Linked DNA regions of Homo sapiens. The protein of the gene in region 2 purifies or fractionates together with the protein of the main gene of each other region. This does not show direct contact. Each region holds a gene or a part of one and is shown on either strand. Other genes may lie near its edges.

Evidence for each region. Proteins that work in one complex are often made in the same cells at the same time.
Region 1: the proteins of GABBR2 (region 2) and CASR purify together in Homo sapiens (affinity purification with western blotting; one study listed by BioGRID). This does not show direct contact.

The regions. Positions count from the first base shown.
Region 1 is NC_000003.12:122,288,067-122,291,722, reverse strand, and holds the end of CASR (extracellular calcium-sensing receptor isoform 2 precursor), read right to left. Parts: 3' UTR 94-3,656; downstream 1-93. UniProt on the Homo sapiens protein: G-protein-coupled receptor that senses changes in the extracellular concentration of calcium ions and plays a key role in maintaining calcium homeostasis.
Region 2 is NC_000009.12:98,299,780-98,303,435, forward strand, and holds part of GABBR2 (gamma-aminobutyric acid type B receptor subunit 2 precursor), read right to left. Parts: intron 3,645-3,656; coding exon 3,462-3,644; intron 1-3,461. UniProt on the Homo sapiens protein: Component of a heterodimeric G-protein coupled receptor for GABA, formed by GABBR1 and GABBR2. Within the heterodimeric GABA receptor, only GABBR1 seems to bind agonists, while GABBR2 mediates coupling to G proteins.

The DNA of each region.
Region 1 (3,656 bases), on a different chromosome or scaffold from region 2:
AGCTCTGGAAAAATTTGTAGGAGGGGTGACTGACCCAATATGGTGATTCCTATCTAATATGATATGCTTATCTGTTTAAAATTTGGTTGCATGTTTATTTTAAATTCTTTTCTTTATTTTCCTGTTATAATTTTGTGCTTAATATACAAAACTTGGGAAAAATTTAGAAAATCCTAAAGAAGCAGAAACAATTATCCATTAGTCCACTACCAAGCAATCTTCATTTATAATGCTCATCATCACTGGCCATCAGAGAAATGCAAATCAAAACCACAATGAGATACCATCTCACACCAGTTAGAATGGCGATCATTAAAAAGTCAGGAAACAACAGGTGCTGGAGAGGATGTGGAGAAATAGGAACACTTTTACACTGTTGGTGGGACTGTAAACTAGTTCAACCATTGTGGAAGTCAGTGTGGCGATTCCTCAGGGATCTAGAACTAGAAATACCATTTGACCCAGCCATCCCATTACTGGGTATATACCCAAAGGATTAGAAATCATGCTGCTATAAAGACACATGCACACATATGTTTATTGTGGCACTATTCACAATAGCAAAGACTTGGAACCAACCCAAATGTCCAACAACGATAGACTGGATTAAGAAAATGTGGCACATATACACCATGGAATACTATGCAGCCATAAAAAATGAGGAGTTCGTGTCCTTTGTAGGGACATGGATGAAGCTGGAAACCATCATTCTCAGCAAACTAATACAAGGACAAAAAACCAAACACCACGTATTCTCACTCATAGGTGGGAATCGAACAATGAGATCACATGGACACAGGAAGGGGAACATCACACACCAGGGCCTATTGTGGGGTGGGGGGAGGGGGGAGGGATAGCATTAGGAGATATACCTAATGGTAAATGACGAGTTAATGGGTACAGCACACCAACATGGCACATGTATACATATGTAACAAACCTGCACGTTGTGCACATGTACCCTAAAACTTAAAGTATAATAAAAAAAAAAGAATAAAGAAAAATTTGGAGGAGGGGTGACTGACCCAGTATGGTGATTCCTATCTAATATGATATACTTATCTGTTTAAAATTTGGTTGCATGTTTATTTTAAATTCTTTTCTTTATTTTCCTGTTATAATTTTGTGCTTAATGTACAAAACTTGGGAAAAATTTAGAACATCCTAAAGAAGCAGAAACAATTATCCATTAGTCCATTACCAAGCAATCTTCATTTATAATGAGTGTATATTTATAATTTATAAGTTTCTCATTTATAATGAGAGGTCAGATAGAAACAAAACATTTAAAGAAAATCAGGACATTCTGAACAATAACCACATCTTTGGGTTGATATCAACGAAGACAATCACATTCTTCCAAAAACATTTCCTGATGCCTTTACAGGAAATCCTGTAATGACCCCAGGGTTTATTCTTGGGCTTTGATCTCTTACCTATTTTCACCAAACTTGAAAATATTTGCCATCCATGTGCTGAAACTTCAGTCACAGAGTTTGCTGCTTTTATTTGTTCTAACTTCCTGCGCTATCTAGTTACCCAGGTGCCCACATTTTAGAGGCAGGGAGCTGGTGCTGTATCTCTATTATTCCCCCCGCCTCTACCAATAAAATTGTTTTTCTTCTTCTTTTTTTTTTTTTTTGGCAGGGTCTTGCTCTGTCACCCAGGCTGGAGTGCAGTGGTGCAATCACAGCTCAATGCAGCCTTCACCTCCTGGGCTCAAGCAGATCCCCCCACCTCAGCCTCCTGAGTTATCTGCCACTACAGGCGCATGCCACCATGTCCAGCTGTTTTTTTTTTTTATTGTTTGTAGAGATGGGGTTTTGCCATGTTGCCCAGGCTGGTCTTCAACTCTTAGGGCTCAAGTGATCCTCCCACCTCAGCCTCCCAAAGTGCTGGGATTGCAGGCATGAGCCTCTGCATCTGGCCTCAGCTGTTGATTTAAACAGGTACCCCTGCTTGTCTCCACTCCAAGTGTCCTCCACTCTTGTCCAGGGGTCAGGGGAGGGGATGAATGTGGTGGTTATTCCCAACAGAGGAGAAGGTTCCCCTAGCCCCACTCGGTGCTAGAGTCACAGTTGTCCCTCCAGTTCCCAGAGGCACCTTCATGCTGGCTCTGCCCGGCTTCCTGCCCTGTTGGCCTTCACCTAGCAGTTCTCCATTTCTCATACCACTTGCTGAGCTTTTCCTCTCAAGGCTAAGGTTCTTCTTTGGATCCTTGGAATGCACCTTTATTCCTGTGACAGGTTCTACCCTGTGCTTGTTGTTTCCCTGACCCCTGCCTCACTCCTTGCATAATAGCAAAGTCACTCAAAGTTGTCATCCAAGTCTTGATGTTTTTTTTCCATGATCTGGGCCAGGAAAACCAGCATCTCCCAGAGGCTGTGATCTCACTGTGGCAACTTCCTCCCACCTACCCTAATTCCACCCACCTTTGGGAGTATTCTTGTCTCCAGTGGACTCCTAAAATGACCACTCAGGCTCAGACAAATGAGGGCCACCTCCTCCGGTGATTAGCACCCCTTATTGATGTTCCATTATTCTTGTAGCAATAATTATTTCAAATGCAGCAGATGAGCAAAGGGAAGCTCTGGCTGGGCAGAACCAGCCCGTAGCTATGTGATTTCAGCCAGAGCAAAACGACAGACAACATTGCCTTGAAATGTGCCTTTTGGAGACAGAGGTAGGGTAGCCCCAACTTCCCCAAAATCAAAATTAATGCAATTAGACAACGTGTGACGATCATAGGGACTTTCAGGGTATTGATGTTATATGCTGATCGTCACCTCTAAATTTCCAACCTAAATTCTTAAAATCTTCTAGGACACTTTCATTTGAGTGAAAATCTTTTTAACTTTATAATTCATTTTAATTTTCAAAAGAAATGTAAGCAGTTTCCCATTGTTAACAAAACCTAAGAAATATTTTAAAAAGTAATTAAAAGGTGATCATATATTTACCTCCTGACTTCCTTTATTCAAGAGAAAAGCAAACACTAGTTTGTTGAAGCTACCAATTTCAGGTTTCTGCTACTGACAGATAATAGAATGAGACAACACGGCTGTGTATTTTCTATAACCAAAGCCAGCAAAGACTTAGAATATGAGGTTTATACTTTCCCAAGCAGATGTAGAGGAATAGAATATTAGAGGGGAAGGAGTGAGCTAGGTGAAGGGAAGAGGACCACAGTGAGAACAGGAATAGATCTCTGAGACAGGCTCTGGCTGCCAAAACTCAGGGAAGGAGATAACAATACAAATGTATTTGTTTTCTGTTGCTGCTGAAACAAATTACTATAAACTTCATGGCTTAAAACAACACAAATGTATTATCTTACAGATCTGGAGGTCCAAAGTCCTACAAGGGTGTCACTGGGCTAAAATCAAGATGTTGGCAGGGCTGCATTCCTTTCTGGATGTTTTAGGGGAGAATCGGTTTTCTGGCATTTGCCAGCTTCTAGAAGCAGCCTGCCTTCCTCAGCTCATGTCCACTTCCCTACGCAAAGGCAGTACAGGCCAGTGGTGTTTTTCTCATACTGTATTGCTCTCACACTGACTCTTCTGCTTCGTCCACATTTAAGGGCCCTTGGGATTCCACTGGACCCACCTGGATAATTTGGGACGCTCTTCCTATCTCAAGGTCAGCTGATTAGCAAT
Region 2 (3,656 bases):
AGGGGGAGGTTGTGCAGATCAAACAAGATAATACATGGAAAGTTTAGCCCAGTGTCTGAAACATAATAAGGGCAACTTGCTACTATAATAATATTACTATTATTACAGGGTCTCACTCTGTCACCCAGATTAGAGTGCAGTGGTGCAATTATAGCTTACTGCAACCTTGATCTCCTAGGCTCAAGCAATCCTCCTGTCTCACCCTCCTGAGTAGCTGGGACTACACGTGCATGCTACCATGTCTGGCTAATTTTTTTTTTTTTTGGTAGAGATGGGGTCTCTCTATGTTCCTCAGGCTGGTCTTGAACTCCTGAGCTCAAGCAATCCTCCCACTTTGGCCTCCCAAAGTGCTGGGTTTACAGGCATGAACTACTGTGCCTGGCCTTATAATTACTATTACTGATACTTAATAGGACCCACAGTGGAGGACAGACATGCAGGGCTCGCGAGCTCTGAGCCTCACACTATCATGGAGACTCTGACCTGCAGGGTCTCACTCAGAGGAGTTAATCAGGATGGGTCCCAGTCATCCCCACGTTTTTATTTTTAGAGACAAGTCTTCTCTATGTTGCCCAGGCCGGTCTTGAACTCCTGGGCTCGAGCGATCCTCCCACTTTGTCCTCCCAAAGCGTTGGGATTACAGGTGTGAGCCACAGCACCTGGCCCATTCCCAGGTTATACAAAAATCAGGTGCAAGTCCTGGGGGCAATTCAGCCCCAGAGAAGCCTGGGCAATATGAGTGTTGGTAGTTGTTGGGGGTGGTAGTCGGGATGGGTGTTGAACATCTGTGATATTACCATATCTGTATAATAGAATGGCTTTCATCCATGATTCCTGGCTGCTATATCTCTTGTAAGAGTCTTTTGTTATAATGTTGGGGCATTTTAGGCCTCAGGAGCGGGCCTCATGAAACAGAATCACTCTCTCTGACCTTCTCCTGTCCTTTCTCACCTGCTCAAGGCAGGACTGTAATCTGATGTAGGTCAAAAGACCTTTATCACAGAGAGAAAGTCTTGCCCCATACCCTGGAGGAAGGAATGCTACAGAGAGGCCAAGAAAATTCTGAGCAGAAAGGCCTTGCTGGGTTTAGATCATGCATTTTTGTCCAATCACATTTCTACACAGTTGTCAGTCATGCCTCGTGTAATGAAGCCTCCATAAAAACTCAAAAGAACAGGGTATGAAGATCTTCTGGGTAGCTGAACACGTGAAGGTTCCTGGAGCATGGGGCCCAGGGAGGCAGGGAAGCTCCACACCCCTTCACCCGTCCTCGCTCTGTGCATCTCTTCATTCATGTCCTTGGTAATAAGCTGGTAAATGTGTTTCCCTGGGTTCCGTGAGCCCCTCTAGCAAATTAATTCAACCCAAAGCAGGATCCTGGGAGTCCCAACTTGAAGCTGGCTGGTCAGAAGTTCCAGAGGCCTGACTTATGACTGGTATCTGAGGGTAGGGTGGGGGTCAGGGGGAGCCTTGGGGACTGAGCCCTCAACCTGTGGGATCTGAAGCTATCTCTAGATATGTAGCATTGGATTTGAACTGGAGGCACCCAGCGGGTGCCTGCTGCTCGTTGGTGGGGAAAACCCCACACACATTTGGTCACAGAAGTCTTCTGCGTTGACTGTTGTGTTGGTGCAAGAGCACAGGAAAAACATGGTTAGAGGATTTTTCCAAACAGCATCCTGCTGTAGTATAAGGGAGGAGACCTGATAAACTATCAGAGGCTGTTCTGATGTCAGGAACACAGCCATGAAATTGTTTAACACGTTTTCATGTGGAGGAGGAGGGAAAGAGATACTCTTTTCTATGTGACTTAAATGGCAGGAGTAGGATCAAAGGGTGGGGACAACAGGAGGCCAGATTGTGATTCATTTCCGGGAAAAATAACACAACATTTAAGAGTTTTAAATAGTGGCCTGGGTTTCCTAATGTGACTGAACTCTTCATTGCTGAAGTGTGCAAGTAGAAGTGAAATGCAGTGACATGGTCGTACTCATCAGGAGAGGTCTGATATTGAAACAGAGCCTGTAATGGGCTTTGGGGGACAGAAACCCTTCTTAGTTTGCTCTGGCAGCTGATGGTGGGTTACCTCATCCTAAAGCAGTCATCTTTAGGTGCACAGACAACTGTATGGTGGCTCTCTGTGGCAGAATTCTGTGAGCCCCCCAAAGGGCGGCCAGATCTAGCAAATAAAAATCCAGAATGTCCAGTCAAATTTGAGTTTCAGATAATGGGTTCTTTTTTAGTATAAGTATATTCAAGTATTACTTGGGCTAAACTTTTACTGAAAATATGATTGGTTGTTGATCTGAAGTCTGAATTTAACTGGGCATCCCATATCTAATCTGGCAACCCTATGTCTCACTTCTTCCTTGCAGCTGTCCAGCTAGAGACGACGTTTCCCAGCCTCTCCTCTCACTAGGTGTGCTCATGTCAGTTTTTGTTGATGTGACTAGGGCAGAACCAAAATATGCACAATTTTTGGTGTTACTGCTTAAAAGGCAATCCCTCATGTGGACTTTCTATCTCTTCCCCTCCTGACACTGTGAACAGGACATGCTGTCCACCCAGCTCTCCCGCTATGAATGAAGAGAACACCCTGGAGAGTGGGGAAAACCAGAGGGCAGGAACCAAGCCCAGCAATGACCTTGGGGAGCAGAGCTGCCCCAACCGGGCCCTCTCTTTTCACGGCCATTAGGTAAAAGGGAAATAAACATATTTTCTCTGGGCCACTTTATTTTGGGGCCTTGTTTAGCCAGCATTGTAACCAATGTACTTTCCTTGGTCCCTTTCCTGTCCCCCTCCCTAATCAGAATTCCTCTATTAAAGCAACACACAGCCTGCAGAGCACGGGTTCAGGCATACCTCCAACCCAAAGGGAGGGGTAGAGGAGGGGAGGTAATTTGTTTTCCCTTCCCTGGTCTACAAGCCAAGCCTGGCTTGGGCACAAGGCAATCTGGCTATGGTCTCTCTGGAATATTCAAGAACCAGTTGAGAACCCTCAGGACAAAGGCGAGGTCTGCTGCAGCACTCTCTCTTGAAAAGTTTCTTTTCACTTTCTCTTCTCTTGTACATCACATAGATGTGGTGGTTGCTGGGTTGTGCTGGGAGAGTGAAAAACTGAGAGGGAGAGAGACACAGATAAAGAGACACTGACGTAGGAAGCTATGATAATCCAGAAGCTCACAAATCTCCCTGAGTTCCTTTCTGTCTGGGGATGGCTTGAATCAGGTGTTGCTGGCCTCCAAGAGCCTGGGTGAGGTGGGCAATAAGCTCATGTTGGATTCTGACAAATGCCTCTGTGTGGTTTATGTCACCCCTGGCTCTCGCAGCTGCAACTGCAGCTGATGAGACTGCACGGTCATGCTGCAGGGATGGTCTAGAGGAGCCTGAGAGTCCCCGCACAGGGTTAGAGGGGCTTCAGTGGCAGACAGGGCCCAGCTACCAGATGCAGAGGGAGGTACCTCTGTGATCTTCATTCGCAGGCGATGGTTTTCTGACTGTAGGCCCTCCAGGCGGGATGTGCTGGCTTGGTTCACACTGGTGACCGAGGTGGACGTTTTAGAATCTTCTTTCTTCTGATTCTGAGTGAACTGGAATCGCCTGTTCTGCGTTGCTGCATCTGGGTTTGTTCTCAGGGTGATGAGCTGAAAGGACAA